Homo sapiens: one gene and its partner. The protein of the gene in region 1 interacts with the protein of each later gene in a biochemical or structural test. Each region holds a gene or a part of one and is shown on either strand. Other genes may lie near its edges.

Region 1 (6,895 bases):
AATCTTTGGGAGAGCCAGACTCTGGGTTTGAACCTGCACAGCCAGAAACAATGTCCAAACTATGCCATGGAGCTTCTCTGACAAATACCCCATTGATGTCCCCACTAGGTATGGACATTACAGCCTGCACTGTCCCCACTTAGGTGTGGACACTAGTCTGCACCTTTATCGCTGGCCACTAGATGCCAGTCTGCCACAACACCTCAAAAGCTAGCTACCTTTTTAGCTTTTTACTGGAGTCCTTTAGTAGGTTATCTCATTTAATCCATAAAGCAACCTGGAGAAAGTGACTGCAATTAAGAGGTATGCCAGAAATATTTCAGTATTCTTTAGACCATGCCACATAAGCTCAGACAAGTTCAAATAGCTAGTATATAGCAAGTCTGTTTCTCTGGATTGCATTTGCAAAAATTCTGCATGCTCAGCAGTGCTAGGAAGCTCTATAAAATGATGGTGCAACGAAAAATCATCCCAATGAGGTTAAAAAAGGAGATGCATCCAAAGAGTTCCTACCTAATGAATTTTCTGAGTTTCAGATGTATATATGTGTATGAAAGCTATGAGTGATCATGGACCAATACAACTGAAGAGAACAAGAGAATCTCGAGGTCACAGCAAAAAAAAGTAAGATGCAGAAAGGATTGACATTTCCTGGGACTAAATGCATTTCACTTTTGTTTTAATCACAAAGTAAAACTTACTTATTTGCTTCTGTCAAAAAAAAAAAAAAATACTAGAACTGTTGGAACTAATTTGGAAGCCCAAGATTCGTCAGATCGTCCTGCAAATCCTTTTCTAGAAAAGTTCAAACTTAGACCTATGGAGCGCAAATTGCTGAGCCTCTATCAGTTCTGTTCAGTAATTACAATGCATGCACTTTTTGTCCCATATTGGGCTGCTGACAGATGACTCAAGCAAGGCTCTGTCCTCAGGGAGCTTATAAACCAGTGAGAACAGACACATACATAAATTGATAGTTGTAAAAGGCCATAAGTGCAACAAAAGTTACAGGTAAGTTGCGGGCCCTAAGCTTACTGTGAGGCAGTCAGAGGTGGCTCTTTGGAGAAGACAAGGCTTGAACCTTAAAAGGTGGGCAACTGCATAACCAAACTTGTAGCATAGCTTATGAAGGGAGGTGCAAGTATAATATTACTGAAGGGTAGATTTCAGTTGGACAGGTAGATAGTGGTTAAATCATACAAAAGAACTTGAGAGTTTTGCCTGTAGGTAGGCGATGGGGAATCTGAAGGATTTCAAGTAGCAAATGTTTTCATTTCATTTTATTTTATTTATGTTTTTTAGACAAAGTCTCACTCTGTCGCCCAGGCTAGAGTGCAGTGGCTCAATCTCGGCTCACTGCAACCCCTGCCTCCTAGGTTCAAGCGATTCTCCTGCCTCAGCCTCCCAAGTAGCTGGGAGTAGAGGCATGTGCCACCATGTCTGGATAATTTTTGTATTTTTAGTAGAGATGGGGTTTCACCATGTTGACCAGGGTGGTCTTGAACTCCTGACCTCAGCTGATCCGCCTGCCTCAGCCTCCCAAAGTGCTGGGATTACAGGCATGAACCACTATGCCCGGCCTAAATGTTTTCATTTCAGATGGCTCTGACAGCCTAGGAGGAACTGAAGATAAGAGGAGGAGAATGGGGCAGAGAGTAGCTCAGAGTAACAGATAGTATGGGCAACTGTTAAATTATGGGGAAGAGGAAGGTTAGAGATAAGCAAAAGTACCTTTTTTTTTTTTTTTTTTGAGACAAAAAGCTGGTAGAAAGGCCACCGCAGCCAGCTAATGGTTTGTATTTTTAGTAGAGATGGGGTTTCGCCAATGTTGGCCAGGCTGTTCTCGAACTTCTGACCTTGGGTGATCAGTGCGCCTCGGCCTCCCAAAGTCTTTGGATTACAGGTGTGAACCACCTTGCCTGGCCAAAAGTACCATTTTAAATAAAGAAAAGGAGGAATTCTGCCAATACAAATCTGTGAGCTTGCCATGGGTCACTTGGTTACAAGTGACAAACCCATTAAACTGCCTTCAGTGCTCATTTCCAGCATTGCTGGTTTCCAGCTGTACAAAGTCAAACATTTGTCTCCTTTTATCTGTTTTCTTCTTTATCTTGCTTCATTTCCAAAGTAGTTCTCCCTGCATGGTTGCAAAGATGGTTGCCAGCAACTCCAGCCTTTCTACCAGCTTAGCAACATAGAGGAAAAAGATCAATGTCTGGGAACAACAGACACTGGGGAATACAAGACTGGGGAAGGAGGAAGGGGGCAAGGGTTGAAACTACCTATTGGGTACTATGCTCATTACCTGAAGGACGGATTCGTTCATACTCCAAACCTCAGCACCATGCAATATACCTCTGTAACAAGCCTGCATATATACCCCCGATTCTAAAATAGAAGTTGCAAAAGGAAGTCCCTCTACCAATTCTCATTGGTCTGGCTCAGACCATGGGGCCGACCCTAAACCAGTCTCTGATTAGCCAGACTTGGGTCCTGTTTCCATTCCTAAAGCTGGGGATAGGTGCGCCTCATCTAAACCATGCTGTCTGAATAGCAAGGGAATGGTTCACCATTACTACCCTGCTTGAGAAAAAATTTTTTTGACAGTTTAAATTGCATCATTGACAGCAATGAAGAAAACTTAGCAAATCATCTCTAAACATTTTAAAAGAATGAAGCAGAAAATGTAAGACAGGCTAGTAATTGATCCAAAGGAGAAATTCTGAAGGCCAGAACATAGGAGTCAGTTAATACTGTAATAAATAAATTAGACAATATCCATATATAACAACTATAGGTCCAATCCATCCAAGTGCAACGCTGAAGGGACGTATTGATTGCATAGGCCAGAATGTTGGCAAAAAGCTGGTAAATCCTGCAGGGTGCCACCAGACCGCGTGCTGCAAACAAATAACAGCTAGAGAGAGGAGAGGCTTGGTTGAATTTCGGCCTTGACTGGTCTGAAGACTCCAGAGGCGGGACGAATTTGCGGACAGTTCTACCCCATCCCACATGGCGTCAGCTTCCCTTCCATTCTCATGACTCCATGGTCCATGGCTCCAACCTGGGCCTCTGTTAGGCTGTGTCCTGTGGCACCTTAAACTCAGGCAAATTAAGAACTGTTCGTGGACTCTGCTCAGCCCCCACCTAACCCTCCATCCAAGTCATTGTCCAAGCCAGAAACTGGAGTCATCTCAGATACCTTCCCACTCACACCTCCACATGCAGTCGCTCGATTCCATTCACCTCCCAAGTGTCTCAGTTCATTCTTCCATCCCTCCCGCCACTGGTTTAGTTAGGCCCCTCCATTCTCACCTGGACCATCGCGGTAGCCTCGGAGCTTCTGACTGTGTCTCTGGTTGCAGCCCCTACACGCTCTCTTCCTTACAGGAGCGGAGCGATCTTTCTCAAGCGCGAATCAAATCCTTCCACGAGTCCCCGCACCTGGAGCGAAGGCCAAACTCCTCAGCTTAGAAGCTAGACTGCCAGAGTAGGGAGTGGGAATGGAAAAGTACATCAGGAGCACGAGGGGTATTCGGATGAGGGAAGGCCAGTATAGGGCGCCGAGACCTTGGAGTGTTTCTGAGCTGAGGAGGAATGAGACTTTCACGCGGGCAAGGGGACCCTATCCATGAAACAGGCCCTGGGGAGACTGAAGGAGAGCGGCGCGAGCGAAGGCAGAGGGCGGGGCCCCGAGGTCGGCAGGCGCTGCAGTGTCGGGGGTGGCGAGTCAGCCAGGGCCAGGGGATGGCGGGGTGGGGCCGGAGCCAGGCGACCGGAGGCCTCCGGGGCGGGGCCGGGAGGCTGACGGCCTCCGGGCGGCAGGGGGCGGCCTCTCCCACGGCGGCGGCTCTCGGTCCCCCGCTCCGCGTCTTTCGGGCATACAGTGACCTCGGGCGGCGGGTCACGTCGGCCGGGCATGGCTGCATGGAGCCCGGCCGCGGCAGCGCCTCTCCTCCGCGGGATCCGCGGGGTGAGCGTGGGCAGGGTCGGGGCTGCTCTCCCCGGGACGGGAGCTGCGGAGGGACCGCGGGGCCGGCGGCTGTCGGGGCTTGAGGACTGGCTCCCGGAGGGCGCGCGCGGCACTGGCAATGGGGGGCTCCTCTTCCTTTCTCTCATTCATTCTTTCATTCATTCATTCACTCAGCGACAACGGCATTCGAAATTTCAAGCTCTGGCGCGCTCTAGGGGAGCTCCCGAGCTGGGTGGAGGTTGGAGGTCAGGCGGACAGACACATGAACAGTCATAATACTGCGGGCACAGGAAAAAAAAAGGATTGGTTTACCGAGCAGAAGACAGGAGTCATAGCCCAGAGTCAAGGCGTGGGTGCGAGGGACTGCAGCGGGGCCGGGGCCTTGGGAAGGTCGACTGGGCCTCTGACCTTGATCCTCCTCCAAATCCCACACTACCGGAGCAGAACCCAAGCAGGGGGCACTTCCCACGCGCTCTCCTAATCTCTCCCCCTTTCTGAACCATCCTTTGCTTCAGCTCATACCATTCTTTCTCTTAACTTTCATTTTCCTTCTCCCCTGGTTCTGAACCTGCCTGCCCTGTGCATGAAGAGAAGTTCTTCCACTGCGGTGACTTTCAGCGTGGACAGTGATCATCTGGGGATGTCAGTTGATTGTTCCACTAAAGGCCGCTGCCCACAGATCCGCTAAGATGAAAGGCTTCTCCCAAGGATTCTGCAACGCTCACCTCTCTCACCCCTTAGTAGCTGCCGATTCTGTCTGCCATCTGGTTACTCTCTGCCTTTACCCTCAAGATTCTGCCCCCAGAAGCAGCTCCACCCCACCCTCACTCCTGGCAATCCTGTCCAGCCTCTCAACATCGAGTTTCTGTCCCTCCACACAGCAGGCAGACAATCACACTCTGGACCTTTCTCCTGTCTTGCATTTCTGTCCCTAATTGACTAGTTCTTCCCCTGCTCATTCATTCATCCAGCACCAAGTGCCTCTGAGGGCCTGCCCTGGGGTCAGCTCTGGGATGCTGCCGGACTCATTCCTGGCCTATAAGACCAGTGGTGAGAGAGCCAGTGCACAGCTCATTTTAAAGGAGGTGCTCTGAGATTCTGTGACACAGGACCCTGCTCTGAGCTATCAGGAAGGACTGAGGGGTAGAGGGGTGGGACCTTCAGCACCAGCACCCATGAACGGCCCTAGTGTCCTCCAACCTGTCATCCACGTCTAGTCAGGGACCAGTGCCCGGTGCTTCCATCATTGTAATGCCTCTTACTTGGGCATCTCTCCTGACTCGCTCCAGAAGGCACTGTTTCCTGCAGGTTACTTTGGTCCCATGAGCCTGGGTTCTATCACCTGGAGTCCCATCTCCTGTCCCATACAGTCCACAATCTTTAGCCTGGCATTCAAGGCCTGCCACACTCCATTCCCAGTCTGCCTTTTCAGCATGCACTCAGCCCAGCCAAGTGACTGCCGACCTGCTTTTCTGCTCCTTCACTACTAACTGTTGAGACGTGTTCCATCAGAAACATGGGCTCCCCTGGCCGGGCGTGGTGGCTCATGCCTGTAATCCTAGAATTTTGGGAGGTTGAGGTGGGTGGATCACCTGAGGTCAGGGGTTTGAGACCAGCCTGGCCAACATGGTGAAACCTCATCTCTACTAAAAATACAAAAATTTGCCGAGCGTGGTGGTGGGTGCCTGGAATCCCAGCTACTCAGGAGGCTGGGGCAGGAGAATCGCTTGAACCCGGGAGGTGGAAGTTGCAGTGAGCTGAGATTGTGCCACTGCACTCCAGCCTGGGTAACAGAGCAAAACTCTGTCTCAAAAAAAAAAAAAAAGGAAACACAAACACAGGTTCCCCCATGGTAGCCATTGGGGAAGGGGTGTTGTTGCCAATGGTAAACAACCTACAGATACTCCTTCTTCAGGTTCTTTCATAGAATTCTGACTTTGCTCCCAGTGAGAAGGAGTGCATGATGAAGGATAGCTGGCTAATTGAGCAGTGGGCTGTGAGGTCACATCCCACTGGGGAGGGCGAGACATGTTAATCAGGCCTAAAGGCGAGGGAGTGTGGAATTTGGCCCCACCATCCAGGGCAGTGGATGGCCTAGTGGTATGGATCTGAGGCAGGCTATCCAGCTTTTCTGGCTCTGTATCTTACCGAATTCAACCTTGGGCACATTACTGTGTGCCTCAGTTTCCTTACCTATAAAACTATCGGCATAATAGTGTCACAACATTATATGGAAGCAAACATCTCTTGAATTAGGTTTGGGGCCTCTTGTCTCTGGAGTCAAATTGAGTTATTAACAATCATCCTGTCCCCGCCAATAAAAGTTTATTCTGTGTTTTGGGGCACTTACATGGACTCCTGATACCACAGAGCCCCTCTGACATAACCCATGGCTGTGCTGGCGAGGGCTCAGGGGCCTGCCTTGCAGGGGGAATGGCAGGCGGGCCTGCACAGTGGCCCAGCTCAGGGGCAACAGCATCTTCCTCTGCCCTGACCTTCCTCTCTGTTCTGTGGCAGCTTCCACTTCACCATCGGATGTTTGCCACTCAGACTGAGGGGGAGCTCAGAGTGACCCAAATTCTCAAAGAAAAGTTTCCACGAGCTACAGCTATAAAAGTCACTGACATTTCAGGTAAGGTTTCTCTCACTCTTCCTACGGCGCTTGGATAAGATTTTGCCCTTTGGAAGGACAGAGGGTCAGGGGCTTGGAGGAGGGGGCTTGCTGCTGGTGAGTGGCTTCTCAAGATGTGTTGCTGCTGGACAGGTGGAGCTCGGCTGCCCCCACCTCATGGGATGGCAGTCAGGATTCAGAAATATCAGAGGGAAACTGAGGACAAGGCGCAGCTGGGAGGACTCAAGGTTGCCAGCCTGGCTCAGCTCAGACAAGGTCCCTCTCAGTCACCCTAGAGCTGAGGTCCACAG
Region 2 (7,017 bases), on another chromosome or scaffold:
CAGCCATTTTGCCCTTAATATGACATTTGCAGAATGTTCTGGCCAGCTCAGATAGACACTTCTGTACCACACGTTCTCATGCAAACACACCCTCTCATTTTCTAAGAACAAACAAGAATGCAGCACTGAGCATAAAATGAACAGGGCCAGTGCGGCGGCTCACACCTGTAACCCTAGCACTTTGGGAGGGCAAGGCGGGAGGAGTATTCGAGACCAGGTGTTGGAGACCAGTCTGGGCAACCTACTGAGACCTCATCTTTTTAAAAAATAATTTTTTAAAAAAGTAAAGGTACAGAAACACTGACATGTGGAGTGCTCAGATAAAGCATCACCTTCAGTTCAATAATCTGAACTCTAGTTCTTCATTTGGGGCTGATAAACGGAAGAAGCTATCTCAGATATGTGGAGGTTTACACGATGAATTCAATGGCGAATTTGTTTTTGGAGAAGTGGATAGAAAACAGGAGTTCTACCAAATATAGTAAAGCCTTATCTATAAATAAACACAAGGAAGAAAAACATTTTTAGGATGCCTGAGTCAGCATGTTTACACGGCATGATTATTTAGTTTGGGGTTTAACCAATCCTGTGACTCAAATCCCAGGATTCTCAGAAGTTCCTGAGTACTTCCCACCCTCACCTCTTCACTAATGTTCACGAGGCAGGAAGCCATCACATGCTAAGACAGGCCATTTACTCAAAACACCCAAAACATCTGGTCATAGATGCAGACTGATGACAACTGTTTATTTAAGATGTATATTTTGTCATGTTTTCATCATAGGACTAAAGAGGAATCTCAAAACCAAAATGCCAAACTTTATGCAAAAGTCTGATACTTTGGACGAAGTATTTTGAATACTGTTTTCTTTGCTTCTTAAGATCACTGATGTTTGGTGCTAAGTATTTCACTATATTTTGGGTTGTTTTATTAAAAATTTAAATTTAGATGTATTGTTTCAATTTCTTTGGTTCAGATACATGATCTGTTTCCTGCCCTTGCTCATGCTATCAAAATAGCTCCTTGAAAGAGCACCAACATGCTTTTCCATATCCTTAGCATTTCACACACTGTATGTTCTTATCATATTCTACAAAAACACGGCAACTTCACTATGATTTAGCAAAACACAGGCTTTGTACTCTTCCTTCTCAAGGATTACTCTTAATCTTTAATGGCAGCTGCATTCTCAACTTAATACAACGTTCAACAAATAAAAAAGACAACTGCTTCTGAGCCCAATATTATACATTAGGTAAGGAACACGATACTCCTCATTACTGTTCTGTCTCAGGATATAAGTTTGCAAATTCTTCTCCTGATCTCAGTCAACATAAAAGCAGAATTACAGTTTAGAGTGGGCAATGAGAAAGGTGGAATCAAAATAGACACAGGGAAGGCCATAAAGAGTTCGCAAGCATAAATGCCTGATAGCAAAAACGATCACAGAAGATTCCAAAACCACAATCCTGCACAAAGGCCATCTCAATCTTACACAAAAAATACTTCTGCAATGCCTGCCGAGCACCTGCCTGTCCAACCTGGGACTGGTGTCACCTTTGTTACTGATCCTTGTAGTCAAAAATAATTATCTCAAAACAATTATGTAACCCTCCTCATTTTTCCTTTAAAGACCTTTGTCTTCCTCTATCTCCCAGGATACACACAGTTAACTATCGCATGCATTTTCTCATTGCAGTGCTCTATTCCTGAATAAATGCCATTTTCTTTTAGAGAGCCTCTCTCTGTTCGTTATTTAAGTTGACAGCAACAAACAGTTTAGGTTTTTGGCAACAAATCACCAATATTTACTTAAAAACAAACAAAACACTTACAACACAGGTAGGAACAACAGGTTATTTTGGAAAGAGTTTAATATATTCTCTATTGTTAAGTGCACCAGATGCTGGACTTCTGAAACAACAATTATGCTTCTGCATAATAGCTTTTTCTACATATTTCTGTTCATGTTGCTTGTTCCTCTGATTTACCTGGAATCAATGAATCTGAAAAACAAAAAGATTCTTTAAGCACCTGGTAAATTTCAGGTCCCACATTAGAAAATGAGCAATCATCAATAATATTGATGGGGGTGAAAATATGACATTGAGACTTTCGGGTAATGTGCCGAGTTTACTTTCATAGTTTACTAGGCTCAGGTTTCATGCCGAAGGATTATTTGAAAGACTCACTCACTGACATGATTTTCTGATTTTAAATTCGAACACTCTCAAAGCATAAACAGATCACCTCCAGCAACATTGTAAAAAAATACTCAAAGTTTAAAAAAAAAAAAGTAACTTGTGGCAGTACTTAGTGTTCAACAGAAAACACTCCATCTGCTAAACAATATCTCGACTGCAAAGCTTCTCTTACTGTTGGCGGATAGATAATGACATAGCCCAGTCATTATCACCGTGGCAACAGTGACCAGAAACTATCAGAGGAAAATTGCACATGGAACAGCTGGCTCTCGAGCAGGCATGCCTCAGCTTCCTCTGGAGTATGCTTTTTCTGCAAGTCTGGTGTGCTCGAGGGTACCACCAACCCTGTGCGGCTCCAAGACTACAGATTATGTAGCAAGTCCACTGGTCCTGCTCTTCCGGATTTATTCTTCCCGCCAATAGGAGCACTTACCACGTTCCAAGCATCGTCCTAGGCACTGAGGATACAGCAGTGAATAAAACTGAGTGCTGGGTAGGAAGTCAATAACCAAGCTAGTAAATAACTGTATATTGTCAAGCACTGGTAAGTACAAGGGAGAGCAGAGCAAGCAATGGGCCTGATGAGGCTTGCTTTGTCTCCTCTGCACTCCCACACTGCTTTGTATCTGCTTCTCATTTCTCACGATGGGTCCAAGCTTTGGGCACCAGGTCTCCCTGGACATTCCGCGCTGGCACTGCGCCTAGCACCCAGCGGCTGCTCAGGAAACGTTTGTCGAACGAACGAATTCACTTCTTAGTTCCCCATTCAACAAACCTTTCCTGATCCTAGGCCCAACAGGTTAAAAGGCTGGAGGGCCAACGAGGCTGGAAACTCAGAGGCGGCCGGGGGCGGTGGCTCACGCCTGTAATCCCAGCACTTTAAGAGGCCGAGGCAGGAGGATCCCTTGAAGCCAGGAGTTCGAGACCAGCCTGGGCAAAAAAGTGAGACATCGACCCCCCGCCCCCGCCGCCAATTCCGTCTCTACAAAAAGGAAGAAAAAAAAAAAAAACCCAGAGGAAATCACACAGGCAAAAGCGCTTTACAAATTTTAAAAATGAAAACTGTTCTAGAGAAATAATCGCGCGCCGGAGGCGGAAGCCCCAGAGCCTCAGCTCCCACGTGGCGGCGGAGCCAGGGAAAGTCCAGGAGCCAAGGCTACGGCCCGAGCGCTGGAACCCCGGTCAGGCTCCGGCTCCCCGCCACGACGAACTGCATGCGGCCGCGGCGCTCCGGAGGCGCCCGGGGACGCTCACCTAAGCTGGGAGAGGCGGATACCCGCCCGGCCTAGCCCCGCTACCTCCCAAGAGACCAACACGACAAGCGCGCGCCCACCGCATTGCCATGGCAATTCAACCGCCGCTGACACCGGAACCGGAAACTTCATCAGGAGGTGACCCCTTCCCGGCGTTCCGCGGAACGGGCGAGTCCCGCGCCTCTCCCAGTTGTCTCGGCGTAGTCCAGCTGGCCTCATTGGCTCACAGGAGGAAAGTCGTCTTCCCTCTTGTTTTGCCTCTCGTTGCCCTGCAAGCGTGACCCTGATGGACATCCAGTCTCTCCAATTAACTAACAAAGCGGTTGCCGACGACCAATAGTAAGGCAGTAGGATGAGGCTCCGGCATAAGGCCCACCTCCTACCTGCCGGGCGGGACGAGCAACATGATTGGTGGAATCGAGTAATTACTGATCAGTATTGTCCAATCACGGAGGGCAGTTTAGAGCCGGCCCAATGAGGGCCTCCAGGGGGCGGGTCGGACTGCCGCGGGCCGGGGAGCGCTCTGGGTGGCCAGCTGTGGGCCCGGGCCGTCGTGGGCTCCGGCTTGCGTGCGGAGATGAGCGGGTCCCTCGGCCGAGCTGCGGCGGCTCTGCTCCGCTGGGGGCGCGGCGCGGGCGGCGGTGGCCTTTGGGGTCCGGGCGTGCGGGCGGCGGGCTCGGGCGCGGGCGGCGGCGGCTCGGCGGAGCAGTTGGACGCGCTGGTGAAGAAGGACAAGGTGGTGGTCTTCCTCAAGGGGACGCCGGAGCAGCCCCAGTGCGGCTTCAGCAACGCCGTGGTGCAGATCCTGCGGCTGCACGGCGTCCGCGATTACGCGGCCTACAACGTGCTGGACGACCCGGAGCTCCGACAAGGTCAGGCCAGTGTGCCGGGCAGGCGCCCTCCGCCCCGGGCCCAGGAGCATCGCTGCACGAGGCCGAGGGGTTCCGCCGCGCCGGGCTGGGGAGCGGGGCTCCATCCGCCGGGGTCTGTCTGAAGGTTCGAGCCGGGTTAGGGCGAGGAGTACTGCCCTGGAGTAGAGTCTGGGCTGAGGGTGTAGTTGATTTCACTGGGTCTTGAGGATCTGGGGCTCTGTACTGTTGCCAACTTGAGCAGTAGGTAAAGTCCTAAAGGTTCACTTATCCTCACTTCGAGCTAATATAGGCGTTTCGGGGCGATTTGTCAATGACTGACTCGGAGGAGGGTGGCCCGCTGCCTGACTGCTCTGCACGGTTAGGAAACTCATAGTAAGGACCCACTGTGAGATAGGTACTTTCGCGGACACTTTGGGGAGGTTGGAAGCCATTGGCCTACTCGTGGGTAAGGTCTAGGGCTGTCGATGGTGGGGAGAGGGCTGAGGTTGCCCTTGAGGCTAGTGAGGTCGGAGGCTGATCTCGCTTGGCTCACGGCTCAGGGTGTCAAGCATCATCCTCTGTGGTTGCTACAAGCAAAGGGTTGGGACAGCTGTCGGCTGACCTTAGTCGGGATCTATGTTGTCGGGGAAGAGTCATGACATTTGGCTTTAGATACTCAAGCACAGGGCTGAATTTATGTGGGCCAGGGCTTGGAGAGGTTTGTGGGGAAAAGAAGCAGCCCTGGCTCCTGGGCCCTGGGCTAACTCACTGGCTCAGCCTTGGAGCCCAGGGGGCCAGGGCACCAGGGACCAGATGGATTAGGCCGGGAGAGGGAAGGCTGCAGCTAATAAGCATCTTTTCCAAGTACTCCACGTGCATTCGCCAGTCTTATCTGAGTAGGGGAGGAGGAAGAGGCCAGGCACAAGGGCCTGCTCCTTGGCCAGGATGGTCAGGGTTGGTGGAAAACTGGGAAGGCTGTACCTTTTCCTTCTAGAGAGTGACTTAGGATACCTGCATCCCAGTTAGAGACTTTCAGTGACTGAGTCCCTGCATGTCCCTAGCTAAAAAGAGGTGCCAGTTGTGTGCTAAAAATAGGTGCCAGGTTCTCTGTTACTCTAAATTCGAAATTACTAATCATAGTCATTGCTTACAATGATGAGACAGGCTGGTGTTTGGAAAAGCTTTGGGTTGACATCCTCTTCTGTGGCTAATCAGGTGTAAAACTTAAGTCACTCACCTGCATTTGAGGATAATGAGACAATTTGGCAAAGTTTGTGTTAGGAAGCCAAAGTAAAAATTATAGAAAGTGTGTATTATTTTACCTGGCACAGAAAGCACCCGGTAAATGGTAGCTGGCTTCGTATTAGCACTTGATGGTTTTCAAATGTATTTTTTCCCAGATTATCTAGTCCTTAAAGACTCTTGGGGATAACTGATCCTCCATTTGCTGTAGGTGATAGTGGTGGTGGGTGGGACCTAGAAAGCATGTTGAGTTGAGGAGTCGAGAGGGCAGGTTCAAATTACCACGTATATGTAATATTACCATGTGTTATTCTCATGACCCTTTTGTCTTCCTTGTCAACTAGTATGCCACCAGTTACTGGGCTCAGTTTTATCATGTGCAAGGCAAGGGACCTGCAGTCTTCCTTCGAAGACAGCTTCTCTGCTTAAAAGAGGAGTAACTATTTTGCAGTCTTTTGACAGAGACCTTGCAGGGAGTCCCCTGCAAATTGCCAATATGGCACTAGTAAAAAAGTGGTGTTGTTATCTCGCTTAGTATCATGTTTCGAGGGTCTTTGGTTTGTGAATTTATTTTCTCTTGTTTAATATAACTGGAAATGAGATATGCTGGAATATAGCTAGTAAACGGAAAATAGGAGCAAAAATACGAATATGTACTGATAACATTTTATTTTTCTGTCTTTTATCCACGTCTGGTGTCTGGTTTCTGAGCTTACTTTCTTAAGTTTTCAAACAGCAGCGACAGGAATTTAACCCTTACATTCCTTGACCACTGAGTTTCATCAGATTGCTATTTTGGTTAATAAACGCGTTGCATATATATTGAATATAACATACCTCTTTTATTGATTAGAAAAGTAAAGATTAGTAAGTATTAACATTTGGACTGGGCAGGGTGGTAAAAGCACGTTCCCCAAATGGGGATTAGTTCAGCCAGGTTATTAAGACTCTTCCCCTCTTCCCTATACAGCTTTATTTACCAAGAGCAACTAACGGGCTGTCCGATGCTTGCTTTTGCCAGCCGAAACTATGTTTGTACACCAGATCCAAGGTCATTTCTAGTAATAGGAACGGAGCTCTTGCAAAACTGGCCTTTTGTTGGTTCTTATGCCAAGGAGACCTGAACTTTACAAAGTGCCTAAACCGGAGGAAAACATTCTTTCCTAGTTTTGAGTACTGGGTTCCCAGGAGTGTGATACAGACACATCTTGAGACTGTGACCCAAGGAACAAAGGTGACTATGAGGCAGCATTGTGTTCTGGCCTTCTCAAGACCTTCTTGTCCTTCTCTTTTTATCTGGAGTGCACACAGAAGACAGTCACAAAGGGATCAGGTCCCAGTAGACTGACATCATCATTTCCTAATCCTGGTCTTAATAAAGGAACTTATGCTCATGGAAGCAATGTAGAAAACACTGAAAAGTTTAAAGAAGGAAAATCACCTGTAATTTATGGAAACTATTGTAT

What was found. Proteins that work in one complex are often made in the same cells at the same time.
Region 2: the proteins of BOLA3 (region 1) and GLRX5 form a complex in vitro, tested with the Homo sapiens proteins (4 studies listed by BioGRID and IntAct, with this or other methods).

What each region holds. Positions count from the first base shown.
Region 1 is NC_000002.12:74,144,899-74,151,793, reverse strand, and holds the start of BOLA3 (bolA-like protein 3), read left to right. Parts: upstream 1-3,881; 5' UTR 3,882-3,919; coding exon 3,920-3,973; intron 3,974-6,490; coding exon 6,491-6,605; intron 6,606-6,895. UniProt on the Homo sapiens protein: Acts as a mitochondrial iron-sulfur (Fe-S) cluster assembly factor that facilitates (Fe-S) cluster insertion into a subset of mitochondrial proteins. Probably acts together with NFU1.
Region 2 is NC_000014.9:95,531,055-95,538,071, forward strand, and holds the start of GLRX5 (glutaredoxin-related protein 5, mitochondrial precursor), read left to right. Parts: upstream 1-3,995; 5' UTR 3,996-4,035; coding exon 4,036-4,330; intron 4,331-7,017.